Linked DNA regions of Homo sapiens: regions 2 and 3 are each linked to region 1. The links come from fine-mapping of genetic effects on gene expression. A gene starts in region 1. Each other region holds a variant in brackets. All regions are shown on one strand. Distances are between the middles of the regions. Region 1 holds the start of TRAM2 (translocation associated membrane protein 2). Region 2 overlaps TRAM2 (translocation associated membrane protein 2). Region 3 overlaps TRAM2 (translocation associated membrane protein 2).

Region 1 (8,000 bases):
CTTGCCTCCCTCACAGGGTGACTGGAAAGTGCAATATAAACGTAAGGGGTTGTTATTTCCTCCACATCCAGATGGAACTGTATTCACCCATTTTTAGGTCCCTGATCCATCTCAGGAGAGTTTTCCCTTTTGTTCCTATTGCTGGAGCCACCCTCTAGCCTCCTCCTCAGTTTCATCACTGATCTCCCGTAGCTCAAGTATTTTCAGTATTTCCCTCTCTCCTGGGTTTTTCCTCTCTGTCTCCAAATATGCTCCAATCTCAAAAATTAAATATAATTTAAAGGTCCTTCCTTAGATCTTCCATAGCCCTCAAAACACCATCCATTTCTCTTTTTCTCACAAAACATTTTTTTACAAACAGACGTTTTTACCCACCTCCTTTTCTCAACTTCTACCTACTGTTAAGCCCACTCTAATGTTCAATTAAGTGGTCTCTAAAAGCCACGATGGCTGAATCTGGGAGTTTCATCTCATTCTTGTTCTGCCTGATTCAACCTGTCCTTAACGAAATTCTTATGTCGTGGCTTCCTCTACGCCACGCTTTCCTTTTCCTCATCTTCCCCCATTCCGAGTGTCGGGGTTCACTAGGATTCTGCTGACCTCAGACTTTTTCTCATTCTCTCAGAACACTTATATAACCTGATGACCTCAACAGTCCTACTGAAGATGAACTGAAAATACTTTAGTTGTGATTTTCCCTCCCCAAGTCCAATCCAACAGTTTCCAACTGAGCTGTCAAAGTGTTCCATGGCTCCTCAACCTCAGCTTGTTCAAAGCAGAGGCCATCTTCTTCTCCTCCCTTAAACATGCTCTTTATCTGTTATTCCAAATAAATTTTTTAATGGTCCCACCATCATTTATGTTATCCCAGATGCAAGTTCTGACTCATTCAACTCCCTTTTATTCTTACTGCTACTGTTCTTTGAGGAGTGCTAGCCAGACGCAGTGGATCATGCCTATAATCCTAGTACTTTGGGAGGTAGAGGCAGGAGGATCACTTGAGCCTAGGAGTTCGAGACCAGTCTGGGCAACAGAGGGAGACCCTGTCTCTACAAAAAATAGAAATAAATTAGCCAGGCATGGTGGTGTGTGCTTGTAGTCGCAGCTACTCGGAAGCTGAGGCAAGAAGATCACTTAAGCCCAGGAGGTTGGGGCTGCAGTGAGCTGTGATTGCACCATTGCATTCCAGCCTGGGTGACAGAGACCCTGTCTCAAAAAGAAGAGAGAAGTGTCCATTTCTTTACTGGACTGTTATAATAGTTTCCAAAGTGGTCTTCCTGTTTAAATCAGGATGGTCTTCCATACTCCTGATAGTTCTCCTCTAAAGACAGATCTGGTCATGCTTAAAAGCTTTCCATTTCTTGCCAGGCACAGTGGCTCACGCCTGTAATCCCAGAACTTTGGGAGGCTGAGGTGGGTGGATCACCTGAAGTTGGGAGTTCAAGACAAGCCTGACCAACATGGAGAAACCCTGTCTCTACTAAAAATACAAAATTAGTTGGGCATGGTGGCACATGCCTGTAATCCCAGCTACTTGGGAGACTGAGGCAGGAGAATCTCTTGAACCCGGGAGGTGGAGGTTGCAGTGAGCTGAGATGGTGCCATTGCACTCCAGCCTGGGCAACAAGAGGGAAACTCCATCTCAAAAACAAATAAACAAAAAACACCAACTTTCCATTCCTTCCCATTGTTTGCAGAATAAAGTCACAATTCTTTATCACAGCATACAAAACCTGCCACAATCCAGTTCTATCTTAACTCTCCAAATTCATCTATCACTCCTTTTCTGCATTCTCTGTCAGTACCATTTGTCAGGTAAAGGCCCAGCCCAAATGACCTCCTCCCTTACACCCCAGAGAGAATTAGGTTACCTTTTCCTTGTACTCAGAGTGTGCATATTTCAGGTTGTTCTTAGAGTCACCATCATCACACTGAATTGTAATGATGTCTCAGTCAATTCTAAAAGATTGTAAGCTTTAGCAGTGTGTATTAGCTATCTCTTGCTGTATAACAAATTACAATAAAATTTAGTGGTTTAAAACAGCAAATATTTATTCTCTCCCAGGTGCAGTGGGTCAGGAATTCAGGAGTGGCTTACCTGGCTAGTTCTGGCTCAGGGTCTCTCATGAGGTTGTAGTCAAGAGATTAGCAGGGGCTGATGTCATCTGAAGGCTTAACTGGGGCTGGAAAATCTGCTTCCAAGGTGGCACACTCATGTCTGGCAAGTCAGTGATGGTTGTTCGCAGGAGGTCTCAGCCATATGGAGGATATGCCTCCACAGGACTATGAGTATCCTCACAAAGTGGCAGCTGGTTTCCTCCAGAGGGAGTGACCTGAGAGAAAGAAAGCAGAAACCCTCAAATGCCTCTTCTGGCCTAGTCTTGGAAGTCACATACCATCACTTATGCTACCTTCTATTTATTAGGAGTGAGCCACTAAGTCCAGCCCACACTCAAGGTGGGGGAACGAATTGCCTCTTTTTGAAGGAAGGAATGTTGAAAAACTGGAGGACATATACCCATATGCCACGTAATGATATTCAGGTCAAACAACATATAAAACAGTTGTTTCATAAGATCTTAATGGAGCTGAAAATTTCCTATCACATAGTGATGTCGTAGCCACTGTAACATTGTAGCGCAATGCATTAACCACGTGTTTCTGGTGATGCTGGTGTAAACAAACCTACTGTGCTGCCCCATAATATAGTTTAGTATAAATGTGTAGCAAAAGGCTGGGTGCAGTGGCCTGTAATCTCAGCACTTTGGGAGGCCAAGACGGGTGGATCACTGAAGATCAGGAGTTCAACACTAGCCTGGCCAACATGGTGAAACCCTGTCTCTACTAAAAATACAAAAATTAGCAGGGGGTGGAGGGCACCTGTAATCTCAGCTACTCAGGAGGCTGAGGCAGGAGAATTGCTTGAACCTGGAAGGAGGAGGTTCCAGTGAGCCGAGATGGCGTCACTGCACTCCAGCTTGGGCAACAGAGAATCCGTCTCAAAAAATGGCGGATCACTTGCGGTCAGGAGTTCGAGACCAGCCTGGTCAACATGGTGAAACCCCCACCTCTACTAAAAAATACGAAAATTAGCCAGGTGTGGTGGCACATACCTGTAGTTCCAGCTACAGGCTGAAGCATGAGAATTGCTTGAAGCCAGGAGGCAGAGGTTGCAGTGAGTCCAGATCTCGCCACTGCACTCCTGCCTGGGCAACAGAGTTAAGACTCTGTCTCAAAATAATAATAATAGCAGTGGGGGTAACTTAAATTCAACCATCTAAACCTATAAAGAAACCAATTGTATAAAGTTCAACCTCATAGGTGTGGCCGCACGTTGCAAATTTGAACACATCTTCACAGGTGGAAAGTCGAGGTGCTTCAGAGTTCTTGATCTTTCTGTTCCTCACAAGACGAAGGTTCAACTTTGAGAAAGGTCAGCCTTGAAGTTAAATGAGGTTTAGTCCAATCTAGGCATTACTTTGTCATTTCCTTGAGAGTCAGATAAGGGAATTACAGACCCAAGACTGTATTTTAAGTAAGGTGGAGTGCAGATTGAGGAAGTAAAATTTCTCTAGGAACTCCATCCTGTCTCAATTACATTCCACCGCGTGCCACTTTTAAAAAACCATATTTATTTAGAAGTGAAATAACTGTGGACCTAATAAAAAATGGAATAGGAATTAGTTTTTTTTGTTCATTACGTATTTCTGCACATCTAGAAAGTAACTGACTGCTTCATTACTGGTAGGATTAAATCCAATATTTGCGAATATAATTTATTAAGAACACCTTTTGTCCTTCCAGGAGTACTTTTAAGACTTAATATTAAATAGAAACTTTCAGTGAGAAAGTTCCTTCCTTTTTTGCTTCTTCTGTGTTTATTCTTCCACTTCTTCTGATTAATATGTAAGGTAGACTTTCGGTGAAATGTGTGTAGCTAATTAATGGTGGCATGAGGGTCCCAAAAATTACTGGGCAAAACTGCAATCATCCACCCTCTCCCCGCATTGGAGCGAAAGCTCCCCTAGGGCAGGGTCTTTCGGTTTGTTGATCTACCTGAACTGTGCCTAGCCCACTGCAAGTTCTCGATAAATACTTGAGTAATCTCCATTCACTGATCGTCCGTGCAGGGCGCTGTGGCCAGCCAGAAGGCCGGTTCGCGGCTTCCCTGCTTCCGCCGCACCCGCGCCGCCCTCAGCCCCCGGGGCCACAGCCCGCAACCCCGGGAGCATCCGGCTGCCCGGCCACCCCCGGGGCGCTCGCTGCCTCCGGGGCCTGCCCTTCCCGCGGAGGAAGGAGCGGAGCGAGGAGTGGGAAAGCTGGGCCCACTTCCTGTCCGGGCAGGCCTGGGCGCCCGCCTCCTCCGCGGCCTGCTTTCTCCACCGCGAGCGGCTGAGCCTCGGGCCCCGAGAATGCGGCCGGGCGCGGCGCTGGCGCGGGACGAGGAGGAGCCGAGCCCCGCTCGCCGCCCCCGTACGCCTCCGCCCCGGTAGCCCGCGCGTGCCCAGCGGCTAGAGGGTTAAGCCCGCGGGGGGCGGGGCCAGGCGCGCCGAGTGCGGGCCGCGGGCTGGGCGGGGGCTGGGCGGGGGCTGCGGCCGGGGGCGGTTACGGGCGGCCGGGGGCGGGCGGAGGAAGGGGGCGGGCCCCGAAGTTGTTCCGCGCTGGGCGGGCGAGCGGCTGTGGGAGAGCGGGCGGCGGGCCGGCGGGCGGACCGGGCCGGTGCTGGAGAAGTTTGCGCTGCGGTTCGTGAGCGCAGGGTGCGGGCCCCGCCGGCCGCTGCGCGCCCGCTGCCATGGCTTTCCGCAGGAGGACGAAAAGTTACCCGCTCTTCAGCCAGGAGTTCGTCATCCACAACCATGCGGACATCGGCTTCTGCCTGGTGCTCTGCGTCCTCATCGGGCTTATGTTCGAGGTGAGAGCCTGGGGAGGAGGGAGCTGGAGGGACAGTGCCCCCTGTCGTGCACCGCCCGGCACACCCCTGCAGGTCAGCGGGCCCTCCTCTGATCGGAGGCTCCTGGCTGCCGTGTACGTTATCTGCACCCCGGCTTTGTGCACTGTACCCCTCCGGCCTGTACCCCGGCCAGCCCAGACAGCACCCCCAGCTCCGCGCCGTGCCAGCCATGCCATGCTCTGCCGCCCCCTTGGGCACTCATCGTATCCTGCAGCTCTGTCTGCAGCCCTGAAACCCCAGCCTGGCCTCGAACCAACCGCCGCGCTGCCACCATGGCTTGACGCGTGGGGTTCCCTTTCTGGCGTCCAGGAGCCAAGCCCAGAGACTCCCAGACCCGCAGTCATTGCACAACCCCCTCTTGCCCCAAGGGGTGGCCACTAGCTCTTCTGGGCTTTTCCAGTGGGAGAGACCCAGAACCTTTTCCACTTCCTATGTGATTTTCTGGGTGTTTTGCATCTCAGCTCTGGAACGTGCTCGGATGTTCACGTGTGGCCCTGGCCCCATCCCAGCAGTGGCCTTCTGCTCTCGTCTCGCTCCCACTTTTTTGCTGTGCTCTAGAAGGCCAATTTTTGGATATCCTTTACCACTCCGTGAACTGTCCCTTTAGATCCATCTGCGGCGACCCAGAGCTTCACCCCCTTTACAGAGACAAGAAGAGAGACAGGGATACCCTCCACTTTTTGGGGAAAGTTGATTCTCTTATAGTGTAGGAGTGGGGGGCAGAGGATGGGGATCCCACCCCCAACAGCAATGTCCTGGTGTCGGCCTCCCAGGCAGGGAGTTGTAGAAAGCCAGCAAGGGGTCAGAATTCACAAGACTGATGGGAAGGATTCCCTACTCTTGCAGAGCAAGAAAAATGTGATATTCAAAAGTGGGAAGAACTGGAGGAAGCTTGGCATGGGTTTGTTGCGGTATATCTTGTCTCAGAAGTGAGATATGTGAGCGACATTCCCCTCACTCTCACCGTGGTCTCCTCTGGTTCCTGAGACTCCTTGTCCTCCCTTCTGCGTCAGCTTGCTTATTGCATTCTCACGGTTGGGTTAGGAAGCTGTGATCATTTACAAACTTCCTTGGAGATGGAGGATGGCTTGCCTGGCTAAATTTCCTTCCCTGTCCCTCTGTCTCGGGTTCCCTGTATCTCTACGAATGACAAGGGCCCTAATTGGCTGGCGAAGCTGCCCTCAAGCTGGGAACGTTCTTGTGGTGGCCAAGTCAGGGTTGGATGAATGAATGTGTCCGTGGCTGAGCTTTAGGGTCTGTAGGAAATAAACGGTGGTGCTAGGACTGGGGTCTCCACTCCACTTTTTGATAGTGCTCCTTTAGTTCAGTCCCTCTCTCCTTCCTCTCCCTCTCACAGCTCTCTCTAGTGGTATATTGGGTCGGGCTTGCTCCACCTTGTTCTGGGTTCTCCCCTGGAAGTGTGTGGTGTCACACAGAGTCATATCCGTGTGTCTCAGTCCCTGTTCTGTGACTAGTCTGACTGAAAACTGACTGCAGCCTCAGTTTCCCCATCATTAAAGACGTTCATAAAACTGGTCTTCGTCACAGGGTGGTTGTAAGGTTTAACTGAGATCATATCAGCAACAAAAGCCATAACATCTCCTACCAACATGAAAAAGTCTCTTGCGCCTGGAGCCCTGTGATTATTTATCATAATAATAGCTTAACAAAATAACAGAATTTCCTTTGCCCAGCGCATTCTCTGCTGTCTGTTTGCTGTCCTCCATTCTAAGAGGCCTCCAAGTGCGTGTCCCCAGCCTTGGAGGGTGTGGCTGGAAAGATACACGTGACAGCTGTAAACCTCAAAGCCACAGGCTGCAGCGACGAAGTTTCTCGCATAGCCTGTGGCTCTCTCCGTCATATTTCTAGCATTTGTTAGGGTTTGTGGCCCTCCCTGTTTTATCTTTGCTCAGAAAGGGCTGCCAGCATTTGAGTTTGGTACCTACCTCCTTCCCTGGGTCTCTAGTCTTATGGAAAGTCCTGTGCATTAAACCTGCCACTCTAAAAGTTGAAAGGTGTTAAGAGCTGTTACTTCCAGTATCTGGTGAAAGAGAAAGGCCCAAGACGAGAAAAACAACAAACAAAACTACTCTTCCTCCCCCTTAGGCTTGTATTGGGGAGTGTAGCAAGGCCCCTGGTTGAAATGCCTACAGGCCCCCTTTTCCTGCCAAGCCCATCACTTCTTCCCATAGCACCTTGAACCTACAGGACCTACAGGGCAGGTGTCTCCTTCTTTTGGAGGTACTTTGTGAGATCATCAGTCTGTGCTTCTCTGGGAGAAAGAGGGCTTTGCCCTAAGCCTCCAGTAAGAAGGTCTTGTGTTCTTCTGTGCTGGGCACATGGTGGGGGCCTCACTGTCTTTACCCACCGACTAACTAACTCTCCACAGAGATAAGTATTCCTGGGGGTGGGGAGGGGGAGTTTGGAACTGCTGCCTCTATCAAATGAGAGCAGAAGCGTCCTGGATACTGTAGGTACCACAGAGAAACAAATGTGGGCATCTTCACACTCAGAGTAAAGCCTGGGGAGACGCCTCATAACCAAGCACAGGACTGGCTGGATATCACTTAGGATCTTCTGGGTTTCTCTCTGGAAGTGTGTGGTGTGCATGTGTGGGTATGTAGGGATGCATATGGTGCGATGGTAGGTGCAACTGGGGACTCACCACCCTTTTCCTAGAAGTGACGGCAGGAAGAGGTGCAAGGGGAATGGGAGAAAGGGGTGAGAGGACATAGGCTTTTGGGGTTCTGACTTGGCCCTGGCTAGGATTCCTTCATTCGGAAGCTGAGCCAGGAAAACTCAATTATAATTCTTCCCACAAAGAGCGACTCTCTTGGCCATTCCTCCTTCTGGGGACCTCTGTCGTGCCTCTGCCAATGGGCTGGGTCCCTCTCCCCCATCAGCCCACGCGCCAGGCAGCCACAGCCCTTGTGTCTGCATTGCATCCCTGCGTTGCTCTTTCCCCCACTCACTGGTCACCTCTTCTGCATTCAGGGGGCTTCTGTTTCCCCGTTAGGGACCCCAGGGCTTTAGTTCTCTGTCCCCAGGG
Region 2 (6,500 bases), 28 kb after region 1:
GTATTTAATGGAATAATATCCTTAATATATCCTTTAGGACATCCAGGACTATCATATTAGTTTGGAAAGTTGTGATAATCAAATGTGGAGAGGCAGGGAGGATTAGGAATGCCAGATTAAAGAGTTAGACATTATCCTTTAAGCAGCAGAAGGCAATGGAGGGGCTGTGGTGTGTGCGTGTATGTTTGTGTGTATATGCCTGGCTATTCTAGCTATGGATAGTGGGAGGGGAGGAAGGGGTTTTGAGTCTTGAGGCTGAGGATCCAGTTAGAAGTCTCTCCTACAGGCTGGTGGCAAATGAGAATATGAAGCTCTTAGCAGCATTGGGAGTAGAAATGATGGATTTAATAAAATAGTAAAGGAAAAAGCCAACAAGGGGCTATAAGGAAAGGTGGGGAGTCTTTGACTGCAGCCTGGGACATAGGCAAGTATAGAGCTTTCTCCTGGGCACCAGGTTTGGCATGTTGAACGGGAGTTAATCATGCACTATGTAGGTAAAGATGCAGCCTCCCACCTCCCATCCTGGGGAGAAAGATTTCAGCAGGAAAAGTAGATCTGAGTGTCGCCGGAATAGAAGTGGCTGCTACAGCAGAGATTTCCAAGAAAGCAAGAAGAGCTGAGGCTTGCACTGGGAGCCTGGAAGTGAAGCCGTGTCACAGAAGCATGGGGAAGAATCCGTGGATACAAAGGGACTTCAGAGAACACCCTTAAAACATGAGAACTCTGAGGCCCAGTGAGGTGGATGGGAGCAGCTGGAAGCAGCCCGTCGGGTTTGTGGCTGAGCTGTCAGGGAACAGGTCTCTTGCCTCCTCACTGCACTTTTCTCCCTTCTGCTTCCTCTTAGTAATATATGTACAGCCATTTGAGCTTTACCTATTTGCATGGGCTTCAGTAGAGCTGCAGGTGGCCTTCCTAGCAGGTGTGGCCACCAAGTACCCAACAGATTTCAGTCTGTTCTTGTCTTCGTTGCCTCCTCGGGGTAGTGAAAGGGCTGGGGAGCCTGTTGGTCCTGTCCCAGGGCTGTCCTCTCTGCATCCGTGCCCCCTGGGCTTTGCATGGGGGAGGAGCCTGGAATCTCGCTCTCTTTAAGGCTGGAAGCCAGGATGGCTGCCTGAGACTGCTGGCTATCTGTGCCCTCTCCTCTTGCCAGGGCTCAGTCTGGGGCAGAATGTGGCCCAGGGCCTGCTTGTCAGCACGTGGCTAGGGTTTCCGTGTTAACGTTCCCAAATTGGGATCTCAGAAGATCAAGTGTCCGTGTTGTCTGATCACGCTGAGCCTTCTCGAGCGGCCAGCTGCAAACCTTTCAAAGGGCTGTGTGTAATTGGCTTGGGAGATGCTGTGGGGGACTGAGAAGGGGACAAAGAAGTCAGTTTTTAAAAGGAAAAAAATAAATGAACATAACAGTCTTGGGCCAGTTGGGTGGGGCATGGTGCTTGGGCACATTGAAACCCCTTCCTCTTCCCTTCCTATTTTTCCACTTCCAGAGGCCCCTTTGGCTAGCGCCGTACTGACCCCTGCAGACCCCCTCTGTGTAAATACAGCCTCTGTCTCCCACCCACTTCTTCATTATGCATTCCTTTAATCTGACCCATCTCCAGGTTGCCAGCTGGCAGAGACTCAGCAGATTCCAAACCCCAGCTGGTGCCAGAGTGTTTACACGGGCCAGGGAAGCTTGGCAGACAACCTGCCCCCAAGCTACTCAGCTGTAGGAAAAGGTAGAAAGACTCCTGGAGATAAGTGGCCCGTTTGTTTGCAGACTTTCTCTCCTCCCTCATTCACCCTCCCCTGCATGCCCACCCTCACTCCAGTTGCTGCTCTATCCTGAAAACGTTAGAAAGAATCCCTTTGTGAAAGGGAGGTAAATGGCTAGGGACTAGCAGCGTAATCCCTACATCCAAGCAACCCTGTGTGGCACTCTGAGCACATAAAGGTAAAAGATCCTTTGCCTTCCGGGCTGAAACAGATCAGATATTAATTAGGAGACATTATTGGTTAGTGTAGAGCCAGTCCCCATTCATAACGGATATGTTTTTCCAAAATAATAAAGCTATGTGATCGAGTGTTCATGAAGCCAGGACTCATATTTGTCACTGCAGCCTGAGGCCAGTGGTGTCCTCAAAATCCTATATTCACCTCCTCCTGCCTCAGTAAAGGCCCCCTTGAAAAACTCAGGCAGGAAACTGTTCGTCCACCACAGTGGTTTATCTTGATCTGAGTTTGTGAGAAGCCAGTCCCAGGGTGTCATGCCTAAAGAAAACCATTTCTGAAGTGGGTTATCAACACTGTTGGTCCTTTGGAAATTAGATGGCCCATAAAGAGTGGCGATTTGTCTGCCTCCCATGCGTTTCATGAGGGGTAGTACCAGGATGTGTGTGGAGGATAATTTTGCTGGTTTAAAGTGTCCTATTCGGTTGGGCATGGTGGCACACTCCTGTAATCCCAGCACTTTGGGAGGCCAAGGCAGGTGGGAGGCCAAGGCAGGTGGATCTCTTGAGGCCAGGAGTTCAAGAACAGCCTGGCCAACATGATGAAACCCCATCTCTACTAAAAGTACAAAAATTAGCCGGGTGTGGTGGTGCATTCCTGTAATCCTAGCTATTCGGGAGGCTGAGGCAGGAGAATCACGTGAGCCTGGGAGGCAGAGGCTGCAGTGAACTAAGATCTTGCCACTGCACTCCAGTCTGGATGACGGGAGTGAAACCCTGTCGCAAAAAAAATAAAAATAAAAAATAAAAATAGTGTCCCATTGCCAGCAGTTACGTTGATGAGGTTAATTATTATCATATGGTGTTAGTATTCTTTTATTTGAGTAGCATATCTCCATCAGTCAGAGTCCCAACAGGAAACAGGTGGGGTAATTGAGGAATGGTTATGTAGGCACTATTAACAAGGGCGTGGACTGGCTCAGGGGAAACAGATAAGGAACAGTAAAGCATTCTAAGGCTTGCGAACGTGGGGAGCTATCCCTAAGCTTGAAGGGGCTGAGGATAGCATGGATCTAGAACTAAGAAGGAAGGGAGAGAGGAAATACCATTGAGAGCTGTGGTTGAAGGGGAGGGGCTGGAGTTTTGGTGGAGGGTTGCAGTGACTGCCAGAACTGTCCAGCAGGAAAGGAGCCAGGTGATGAATACCCCTTTCATGCTCTCTCATGTTCTGCAGATTCCATCGGAAGCCCACTGAAGTACTCCATAAAGGTGAAGCTGTCTGTTCTGGGACACAGGGTAGGATGGAGCATTGTGCAGCCCAGTAGAACTTACAGATGCTATTCTGCCTTCTGTTTGACTCCTACCTCATATATGACAACAGGCAATCAAAGGGTGGCAAAGCTAAACTGATGTCCCTGAAATACTACCATCTCTGAGAATAGGACTTTTGGACAGACGTTTCCTGATTGTAATAAGCCAAATAGTGCAACACATCTAACTTTAAGCTACTCTTGCCCTGATTTCTGGTGAGATTTAGAATCACCATTGCTTCTTAAAGTGATGGCGCATTAAATGCTTCCACTTCCATCTTTTGGCTGGTTCAGATAATACTCAAGCACCACTTAAACCCATTTCCTTCTCTTGCCCCAGTGATTTGCACCCTAGCCCTCAGGGACCAAGAGGAGTTTCTGGTGCAGCATAAATGGAATTCTAATCACCGTGTCTAATTACTACTAGTCTTTGAGTATCTGTATCCAACAGGAAATGGCTTTCTTGACTGTTTCACATGCAGGAGCTTGGACTCCCGTATTTGTTAGGTAACTGATGAAATTTAATTGTTTAATTATGAAATATGAGATGGTTTTTTAGAGTTTTGTGGCTGAAGAGACTTTCAAATTTTATGTTACGATGTTGCCTCCTTTATACTTTGAGGGAGACAATCATTTCTTTATCTTGGCTTGAATCATTGTGGGAAGCAAAGCTTTGAAATGCGCACCATGCTGGAATAGATGGTATCCCCACTGATGAACTCAGGAGACAGACAGTTGATTTTGGGCAGCTTTTGGAAGGAAGGGAGGGAGGGAGGGAAGGAGGGAAGGGAGGGAAGGAGGGAAGGAAGGGAAGGAAAGCTTTAAGGGGTCTGAGGGCCAGATATCGTTTCTTCCATTTTAGACTAGTTCATTTGAAACAAATGGGCACAGCTGAGATCTGAAGTTGGACCACACGGTGGACAGCCCCCGTAAAGCCGTTATGACTATCCTAAGCTAAACCATTGTATCTCTAGGCCTTCTCCAGTCCTTTCTCAGTGCCATCATGATTCTGTTCTAACCCTCACCTGCCCCCTTTTATCCACTTTCTGTACATGTTTCTGGCTCAAATCACCGCCTCGCAGAAATCTTCTCAGAGAAGGTCCAGAAATCTCCAAACCCAGGGCACTAACAGATGTTTTTTGGGTCTCTCCTTTGTGCCAAGAACACTGTGGGTATGGAGATAAATAAAGACATGGTCTTTGCCCTGGAGAAAGCAAAGGAGCTTCCACTTGCCCTTTGCCTAACGCTGTCCTGATCTATGACATCTCTTGTCTTAAAATGAACCCTTTATGCATCAAGGTCTCATTTTGATCATTAGATCTTAGGCACATCGTTCAGGTAGCATGGTGATTAACAGTCCAGATGTCA[C/T]GGTCAGATGGATCTTGGATTCTAGTCCCGCTTCTGGGGCTTATTAACTGTGTGCCTTGGGGCGTGTTGCTTAAGCTTTTTGGGCCTCACTTTTCTGCACATTAGGGCCTCTGGGAGCATTAAGTGAGATCATTTCTGTAAGTGTTCAGAGCAGTTCCTGGCAGGTGATAGAAGTTCAGTGAATAGTAGTAATGTAGCAGTTCCTTATAGAGTTGGAGGTTAGATGAGGTAATCCTGTTTGGCGTTTAGCACAGTGCCTGGCATTTCATAAGATCTCACACGTTAGATGTCATTGTCGCTCCTTGCAGGGTTGCTGAGGATTATTTGATGTGATTGTGTAAAATGCCTTTACCTTGCCTGGCTTGCAGTAAATATTCAAAGAAGAGTGGTTGGTTTTATCGTCTTCGTGATAATGGAGTTGGAGTAGATAGATGTATAGCCTGACTCTGGATTCTGGTCCTGAGCCTTTGAGAGAAGGAAGCGGGTCTCGTAATTGCTTTCATCTCCAGTAGCATTGTGCCTTGCCCAGAGCATGTGCTCAATATTTTGTGATTGAAGAATTGATTTTTAAAAATGTTTATATTTTGTTTTGTAGGGACAGTGCTAAACAAAGACATATTACTAGGGTGTGAAAGTGCCTTACCAGCCAGCTTTGTGCACATGAACATAAGCACACAAACACACCATACTTCTAATGCTTTCCATGACATATCTGTTTAGAAAACCCTGTGTGGCCATTGTCAGATCTGGAATTGCCCCATGGTTATGGCAGCAGTCACTGTGGCTGTAGAGTGTGAATATGGATCCTGGCCCATGGCCAGGTGCTTATCTGCATATCTGTGGGTTCTGATTCTGAACTCTGTCAGTCCAGCCGACGCAATAAAGGCTGACAGGCTGAGAGGAGACCGGAGGCCTCCCGTGGCCCTCCACCCCTTTGGCACCCTGACAGTTCTCCCCCTGGGAACGTGCAGAACAGTCATCCCTTGTAAATCCATCTAGGTGGCCCTGCCTGTCCCTCTAGAGAAATGAATGAAAGTAAAGTCACAGCTGCTGAGAGTGGCAGTGTAGCATCGGTTCAAAAGAATTGATTAAATAGCAGAAAATTTCCCAGCCCCTTTGCGAATATAGTGGAGGAAGGATGTTCATTTTGTTTTTGCCTCTCTCCCCTCTAGCTCCTCTGAAAGTACATTAATTCATGGGGTGTTTATTGAGCGTCTTCTCCATAGCTGGTGTGTGTATCAAGACAAGGTGTCCGAACTGCACAAGCAGCAGGGGTCTTGGGGAACTGAGAAAGGGCGTGGTCTTAACAAAAGCTGCCCAGGCCCAGTGCACCCTCTTGGGCATCCCTCTCTGCAGCACTGGATCTCAGTTCCTGAAGAAATACCCGTTGGATTGGTGTAATTCCCAGGAGATCATCCTCTCTAGGCCCCCTTGTTTTTCTGCATGTCCAACCACATTTCTCTCCATGGTCCTTCTTGTCACCACACGTGGTCTAAGCTTCTCCCGCACCTCCCTGACTGTCCACTCCTCTCTAGCTCCCGAGCTCTTTGCTTTCCTTCAGAGTTGAGCTGCTAGACCGAGCAGTCCACACTTCTGTCTCCACACTCCCACTCCATGCTCACCCATACACACCAGCTCTGCCCCTCCTTTCCTCCAGCTTTGGCAGCATTTACCAGTGACCTCTGGTTTACAAATCTGATGGACACTTCACACATTCATTACATAAATATTTATTAATCCCCACTATGTGCCAAGCGCTGTTGTAGGCACTTGGGACCCATCAGAAAACAAAACAAAAACCTGGTCACGGGCTGCTCACATTTCAGTCCTGAGTTGACTGGTCCTCCCTGGGGCATCTGCAGGTGTGCAGCTGACTCCTTACAATGGTCTCCTGCCT
Region 3 (8,000 bases), 76 kb after region 1:
TGGAGGGAATGTAAGTCTAGTCTTCCCCACCCCCAGCCTGAGCCGCCTGGGCCTGATCTTGCTGCTGCTGCAGTACTCAACTGAGTTCCTCTTCCACACGGCTAGACTCTTCTACTTTGCAGATGAAAACAACGAGAAACTGTAAGTGGGTCTGCTGCAGGCTGGCCCGCTTAGAGGCCTGGGCAGGGGTTCCCCCGAGGCCCGGATGGTTGGAGGGTCCCTCCCTGGTTGCACACTGCCCGCTTACCTGCAGGTGGTGCCCTCCCGTTATTTTTTTCTGGAACATCTGATTTTAGATATCTCGTCCCTCAAGCACTTTCCCCAGCCACCCTTGAATCCTCTTCCCACTCGGGGTCTCTTCTGGAGAAGTGGGTGAAGATTCCTTCAAGGGCGCTAAAGACTGACATCCCTCTTCTGCCTCTGTGAGCAGGTTCAGTGCCTGGGCTGCTGTTTTTGGGGTTACCCGCCTCTTCATCCTCACCCTTGCCGTGCTGGCCATTGGCTTTGGACTGGCTCGCATGGAAAACCAGGCATTTGATCCCGAGAAAGGGAACTTCAACACTTTGTTTTGCAGGTGAGTCGAGCAGAAGTCCAAGGTGATAAGCCAGGGAGCCTCCTGAACTTGGCACAGCCCTTGCAGAAGGTCTGGAGGCAGCAGACCCTTTAGTCTCCCACATATTGTTATTTTTTGGAAATCTCTGGATATCAGGCCTGAGGGGAGAAGAGATAGCAGCCTCTGGTTCCATCCAAACCATCTTCATCCCCTAGTCCTGGTTTGCTCAGACTGTAGTCCAAATAGGAATCCCTTACATTTGTCTGGCACTTTGTGGTGCACAGAGGCATCACACCCAGTCTCTCAGTTGATATCATTCTCCTCTTCTTGTGTGTGGGTGCTTTAAAACCATGTGCTTAATGGCTTGGCCAGTGGCCTCCTGTGGCAGTGAGGAAGCCACTATTTTCCGGAGCCCCTAGGCCCAGGAGAGTGATTTGTCCAGGGTTGCTCCACTTTTAAGTGACATGTTAAATGAGAAGCCACTCTTCCAGAAATTCAGTTCATTTGAATGCTACCAATATTTGTGGAGCTTACATTAGTCTTGTTCTGTGCAATGGGCGCAAAACAGACACAGCCATGGACCCCTCCCTCGTCATAGGAGTAGCGTGATTGTAGAGCTGGCCGTACGTCTGTCGCCACTTCCTTCCCGTCTCCCTGGCACATGTGATGTATGCTGGAGCAGAGACTGACTGAAGCACACATTCTTCCTGGTGATAGTGGTGGTATCGAAGAGGGCCAGTGGTGAAGGCGGACGTGATAAGCCATGGGAACTGCAGGGCCCCTGGCCCTTGTTCTCCCCTGCACAACCCAGCCCAAGGCTGTGAGCCCAAGCCCCAGCCTAAGCCCCTAACCCCCTGCTCTGCAGGCTCTGCGTGCTGCTGCTGGTGTGTGCCGCCCAGGCCTGGCTCATGTGGCGCTTCATCCACTCCCAGCTGCGGCACTGGCGGGAATACTGGAATGAGCAGAGTGCAAAGCGGAGAGTCCCAGCCACACCCAGACTACCAGCCAGGCTCATCAAGAGGGAATCTGGTGAGTGCCAGGGCCCTTGGCAGAGAGTGGAGCCAGGGAAGTCTGTCTGGGATGGGTGGGAGGAGCCAAGGCACCTGGCTTCTTGGGCGCTGCCCAGACCAATCCTGCCAGCTTCTCCTTCCTGACTCTTACCTCAGGGCTGGGGCTCCTAGCTCCCTGATTGGCACGTGGCTGGGTGTGGGCCAGGGACAGGCTGTGGGTGGGGCTGGCCCTAACTAGGCTGGGAGCCCTGGCCACCACGGGGCAGGGCAGTGGCTGGGTGGGGAACTCTGGCAGGAAGCGTGTCCTCAGGGTGGCTTCTGGACCCCAGCCAAGTGCTGCTACTGCCGCCGCCGCCCATTCTCAGTGCCGGACGGCGGCCTCTGTCCTCACCTGCCCTTTTGCTCCACATCTTAGCCTGCCCCTGCCTCCCAGCTTGCTGGCTCCTCCTCTGTCTCCAAGAATGACTCACAGTGACATAGTGCTAGGTGGGGGGTAGGGGTGGGACACTTATCCTTTGGCCCGTGCACGCACTCCAGTCATCACCCACCTTCAGCAGGTCCTCAGGCCCTGCCAGCCCTGCACGTTCTGCCCAGCCTGGGGGCCTGTCTGCACTGGGCGCTGCTTTCTGACTCACCTGCTTTTCTCTAGGTGGCCACCTGCTTGGCAAAGGCTTATGTGTGTTTGAACCAGACACGCGCGCAGCTGGGTGTGTCACAGAGTCAGGCCTGGCTGGCGGGGGAGGTATGGGGCATAAGACTGCAGCCAGTACCTCTGAATTTGAGCAAGCGCACGGAGGTATTTTGAACAATAGAGCACAATTTTTCTGCCAGAGGAGTGTCAGGCATCCTGCTTGAGGCCTTGTTCCTACAGCCTCTTGTCCCCCTCCCTTCTGTGGCCACTGCTCCTGGGAGTTCTTGCTGAACTGGAAGTGGGCTGATGCCTTGCAGGGGCCTGAGAAGAACTGAGGACAGTGAGCAGTGACAGCATCTAAGTGATTTCGGCGAGTATCTAGCCCCAGCCTCAGGCTTGGGCAGGCTGGCCTCTGTTGTTGCTGAGTTACTGTGTGTCATCCCAGGCCCCTCCTGCTAAAGTGCAGTCAGAGACCAAGCCTCTCAAACAGGGCCACTAGTCCAGGGCCCTGGGGAAGACAGGACCCTCCTGGGAGCCGTCTGCTGGCTTGCATTTGCTGTGCAAGGCTGCAGCCTGGCGCCCCTTTGGTGCATCCATGTATAGCAGCTGGGCTGCCCGGGCCCCTTCCTTGGCCTGGCCCCACCCTCCCCTCTTCTGCCTTAGCTCCAGCAGAAACACCATGTATGCTTGTCTCTCTCCACTTCCCAGGTTACCATGAAAATGGAGTGGTGAAGGCAGAGAACGGAACCTCCCCACGGACTAAGAAACTCAAGTCTCCCTAAGGCCAAAGTGCTAAGAACAGGAATCCTCTTGGTGGGGGCCGAGCAGGGGGCAAGGAGCCCAGGCCCCCTCCCTGCCTCCTCCTTCCTGCCTGTGATGCTCCGTCTCAAACAGCCGAAACCTGTCTTGCAATGGGGGGAGGGGGCGTTTCGCTTTCCTTCTTCTTGGCTTCCTCTTATTCTTCCACAAACCATTCTCAATAAAGCCAAAAATCTTTCTCTTTCTCCCCCTCAGGCCACCTCCTGTCCTCACTCCTGTCCTGTGCTGGCTTTTCTGGAACGCCAGGCGCCCATGGCTGGCACCTTTCTGCTTGCTCTGTCTCTTGCCTTATGGCTGCTGCTTTTCCTTTTTACTTCCTATTTTCACCTTATCTTGCAATTTTTCTGTCTGATTTTTACAATGGGAGGGGAGCTAAGATTGCAGTCCTGTCCTTCGGTCCCCCAGGGCCTGCCGGTCAGAAGCCTGGGGCTGGTAGGCCCTTGGTGGTCCTCATGTGGATGGGCAAGAAGAGAGCGGCCATCTCGGATCATAATCTCCTTGGTGCTGATTAACTGACGAGATATATGATTCCAGTTCTGCATGTACCATCTTGAGGCACAGCAGCCACTGCTCGTTGTAAATGCCAAGGCATTTGGCTTTGGGACGTGACAACTCAATCCAGAAGGATGGTGTGAACTCGGTTGGGTCCCGTGACTCGAGCTCCTACCAGTGGCTGGCCGCGGATTGGAAGCCAGCCTGCTGTCGCTCTGTGGGGGGGGACACGTCTTCCCACTGCTTAGAGCGAGAGCAGAGCAAACTGCGCAGCAGGCACCTCCAGAAAGGTAATGGTGGCAGAACCCACAGTGGAGTCGACCTAGGCCTTTCTCCAGCAGTCCCAGT[C/T]GCCATTGCTTTTTCAGCCATTCACAAGCATTCAAAACCAAACCAAACAGCAGTTCATATACCTGCCTGAGATAGGCTGGTCCTCACCTCCAGAGCCAGCCAGCCCCGTCAGGGGCCAAACTTACTACCTTGACTTCATCTCTAGCTGCAGAAACACTAAGTCTCAAGGGCTTCAGCCCCATGCTGGTCCCTTGGTGTTCAGGGAGGGTCACTTGGACCGCTGTTCATCTGGCCGCCCTTGTTGAGTGTTCTTTGGAATTGTCGTTTTTTGAGCACAACTACAGCATTTTAGACTGCATGAAACCATGACTGACTGAGAGTCACTCTCTGGGTAGATGATAGGCGCCTTTCTGGCCCCTTCCCTCACAGATTCTTTCCCCTCCCCTCCACCTGAAGAGAAGGCCTCCAAGTCCTTTTGGTGCCTTGTGAGGACTTTTAGAAGGGGCGTTCAGCTTTAAAAAGCCGGTCCTAATTACGGCCGGACGCAGTAGCTTACGCCTGTTATCCCAGCACTTTGGGAGGTCGAGGTGGGCAGATCACCTGAGGTTAGGAGTTCAAGACCAGCCTGGCCAACATGGTGAAACCCCATCTCTACTAAAAATACAAAAAATTAGGTGTAGTGGCAGGCACCTGTAATCCCAGCTACTCGGGAGGCTGAGGCAGGAGAATCGCTTGAACCTAGAAGGCGGAGGTTGCAGTGAGCGGAGATTGTACCATGGCACTCCAGCCTGGACAACAAGAGCGAAATTCTGTCTAAAAAAACAAAAGTCCCAATTAAGAACCTCCGAACTCTGTTTTGAGGCAAAGGGGAGTAGTTCTTGGTAGGTGCAGGAATAGTAGTGTCATTTGGAATACTGGTCATCTTTCTGACATCACAGTAGAAACCAAACCTTGGATTTAGATTCAAAAGGGGGGAAATGGGTCTTTTCATCAAGGCAACTCCCCTTCTCCAAGTCACTTACATCATAGATAAATTTTAGCTTCCCAGTAACTGAGGGATTTGTTTCCTAACGCCATTGGAGGCCTTCATCCCTCTCTACGATAAGGTTGCAGAAATGGGAAGAGCTACCCGTGGTTGCTTTTGATTACCCTTAGGAAGTGAGACAGTGTTTTTGAAAATATGTATTTCCCCCATTTCTCCCTCTCCTTCCCTGACACTTCTCTGGGCTGCACAGCAGAAACGTTGGTAAAAGGGCAGTTTGGTTTCAACACAGCAGACCTGATATGGGATCCCTTAGCCACTTTAGTCAAACAGCCCTGACAGAGTCTATAATTGAGTTCAGGCCCCCCACCTTGCCTAATAACTGCAAATCGCATGTTCAGCCAGCAGCCTCCTAAGCCCACCTTCCTCCCCCATTAGAGAACACCCATCCTAGGTGCTCTCCAGGCTGTGTCATTGGCAGGGCTTCACATGCAGGAGGCCTCTCTCAGGTGAGTCCAGGTTAAACTGTTGAGTTGTGGCTTCAACAGATATGTATGGCATGCTGGGATGTGCCAGGTGCCTGCGTTGTGCCAGTTGCTGGAGAGGTAGTGTGAGCAGAGCAGCTGAAATCTTGCCATCAAGCAACCCTCATTCTCATGCCTGTAGGTTTCCATTGCTCTGTCCCAGGACACTTGCGTGCCAGAGACGCCACAACTTCATGTCCCTGTCTCTTGCAAGCTCCCCGTGCTGCCAGTACTTCATGCCTTGGATGTGGTCCCACCAGCCCAGTGGCCGGGGTCAGCTTAGGCTCTGCTTCCCAGTGGACGGGTGTGCTAAGGGTTTATTTTATGTAAAAAAAAAAAAAAAAACAAAAAAAAACCCTGAGACCATGAGTGGGGCTGGCATCTTGCCAGCCTGGGCTTCAGGGATGTTTGGGGGGGGTGGTTAGAGGGTAGTTGTAGGGTACTTTGTCACCCCCCTCCCCCTGCCACCCTCCCTGGCACGTTTATTTCACAGCAGAGCCAAGTCTGTGGCAGGTTGACACAGACTGTGTTGCCAGAGCTGAAATAATTCCACTTCATCCTATGAGCGTGTTGGGCTAGCTTGTTCTAATTTTGGCCACTTTGGCTGTTTTCTTCAGTTTTATGCATTCTCTCCTGCCCCAAAGTGCCAAGCCATTTGTGAAGGCTCTGCCAGACACCTCCAAGCTTGAGAGCTCAGCACCATGCACCAAGAGCAGGAGAAAAGACGTAAACCTACCCCAGCAACTGTGGCCTCTCGACAGCCCTGGCTAACTAACTTACATTTGTGGGGAAGCCAACAGACACAGCAGGAGGAGAGGGAGGTGGCGCTGGTGGACCAAGGATCTGTGCTACCCGCTCCCCTCCTTGGAGGTGCAGTGATGATGGGAGTTATTTTTACCATCCGGGCGCTGATAGCTGCACTATTAATAAATTGCATGTGTTCCTTTTGAAGGTAGGGGATGGTTCTGGGTGAGAGGGGAGCAGGCTGAGCCGGCGGGGGATCTGCTGTCCTCCCTTTTGAGTCAGTTCTAATCCCATGTGTGTCTGGGCCACCAGACCGAAATGGTTGCTGAGAAACTTGTCTGTTCATGTCCCAAGGCATAACTTCCCAACATTTAAGAAACCCCAATAGACACCTCTGCCCTGGCCACGTTCACAGATCCTTCTCTTGACCGGAAACCCTGGGACCCTAAGAACCCCTGAAGCTTGGGGTGGGTGTGTGCTTCTGGGGTCTCTTTTGGGACCTCCTTTGTCAGTACCCCTTCTTTTTTCTAAGCAGCTAATAAGAGGTTGGGTGAAAGAGTGCATCTCCTCCCAGGATTCCACAACAAAATTCTTATCTTCCATGGATGCTTTAATTGGAAGTGGGTTGCCGACCCCCTTGTGCCTAGAAAAGGCCTTCGCTTGGGTTTCCTTTGTATGCTTCAGCCTTCCTAGTTGGTTTTTCTAGGCCTGGTGTGAGAGGTAGGGAAGTCTGCACATAACTAATTCTTTTGCTTAAGGGCCTATGGCACAAGTGCACAAACTTCAATTCTTGATGTTCTAAGCTCTCTCCTCTAACAGAGGGAGTGCTGAAAGCTTTTGAGTCAAGACAATGGAGTGCTCTTCCTCCCTCACTCTGCCTTCCGAGCTTATGGTTCCTTTTCTCAGGAGAGGATTTTCAGGATTATTGGAGGATTAGGTCATTGTCAGATGACTGGAAAACCTAAATAGGATCTCTCTCCAGCTCAAGGTTGTCCCAGTGAGGAAGACTTTACCAACTTCTCACTCTACCCCACTACTCACATGAGTGTTAGCTCCACCTTGCAAAGGCTGAAGACCAGTTCTCCCCAGTGAAAGCTGCCTCATTCTTTTATGGAGTTCCCTGGAGTGGCAGAGCTATAAAGACGAGCATTGGGATTTGCAGTCTCCATGTAGCCTTTCGTGCTTGGCAACCCCTGTAGACTTTTTGTCCCAAGCAGATTGCGTGCGTGCGCCTGTGTGTGAGAATAAGTGCCTTACTTTGCTGTGTGGTTTTCAACTTGTACTCCGTGGCCAGCCCCCAGTTGCCAGGGCTCGACGGCAGCCAAGGACACCATACCTCAGTATAGTTATATATAAAAGGGACACGGATTGTGACAGTTTCACCCCATTTGTTTCTAACCCCGCTGCCCAGGATTAGGGTCTGTGGTGTGTTCTGTTTTGTTTTTGGTTTCTCCCTTGTGTCAGTTCTCTTCTGGCCCAGCTGGGTGGCTGTGGAAGTCTGTGAGGTGGCCCAACCACAAGCATACCTATTAAGAGAAGCCCAGAGCTTCCAGCCCCCACTTCGAAAACTCTCCTCTGGCCCCACATAGCAAACTCCTTCTCCGTTATTTTCCCCACCCCCAGATTTTTTTTAAAAGGCCCACTTGCCGTAACCTCTTTTGGTCTATTTTGCTTCCCATTCAGCCCAAAGTTTATATGATAAAGGTGTTTACTTTTACTTCCCAGTCTCCAAGTGCTAACACATAAACACATACATGTCTGACTGTTGCAGAACTGTTCGAGCTCCTAATTCAGTGTTACCTTGTTTTAGTCGCAGCAACCCTCTCCCCTACCCCTTGCCCGCCCACGTTTTTCTCACTCTTCCGGGTTGTGCAATAACTCTCCCAGCCAGTGGTCCTTTCCACAGCCTTTCTGTCCCTTAAAACACCTGCAACTGGGGGAGAAATGGGACCCATGG

Evidence for each region. PIP is the estimated chance that this variant, and not a neighbour inherited with it, causes the effect.
Region 2: its variant is fine-mapped to the expression of TRAM2 in nasal epithelium (TOPMed, PIP above 0.99).
Region 3: its variant is fine-mapped to the expression of TRAM2 in whole blood (TOPMed, PIP above 0.99). The same link has a PIP of 0.9 or more in T cells, blood mononuclear cells and testis.

What each region holds. Positions count from the first base shown.
Region 1 is chr6:52,573,708-52,581,707 of GRCh38, reverse strand. It overlaps TRAM2 (translocation associated membrane protein 2), which reads left to right and starts at 4,648. Exons shown (of 11, transcript NM_012288.4): 1 at 4,648-4,912. The coding sequence starts at 4,793. TRAM2-AS1 (TRAM2 antisense RNA 1) reads right to left here and starts at 4,506. Exons shown (of 3, transcript NR_103446.1): 1 at 3,315-4,506; 2 at 2,099-2,333. RefSeq lists silencers at 4,076-4,935, 6,793-6,842 and enhancers at 7,193-7,242, 7,844-8,000.
Region 2 is chr6:52,546,778-52,553,277 of GRCh38, reverse strand. All of the region lies in intron 1 of TRAM2 (translocation associated membrane protein 2), which reads left to right. Among named protein-coding and RNA genes, the nearest start is that of TRAM2, 27 kb to the left of the region's middle. RefSeq lists an enhancer at 892-1,061. The variant C/T (reference allele first, on the strand shown) is at 4,604.
Region 3 is chr6:52,498,173-52,506,172 of GRCh38, reverse strand. TRAM2 (translocation associated membrane protein 2) reads left to right here. Exons shown (of 11, transcript NM_012288.4): 8 at 37-141; 9 at 431-574; 10 at 1,419-1,582; 11 at 2,903-8,000. The coding sequence ends at 2,976. Among named protein-coding and RNA genes, the nearest start is that of TRAM2, 75 kb to the left of the region's middle. RefSeq lists enhancers at 1,208-2,407, 7,025-7,074. The variant C/T (reference allele first, on the strand shown) is at 3,854.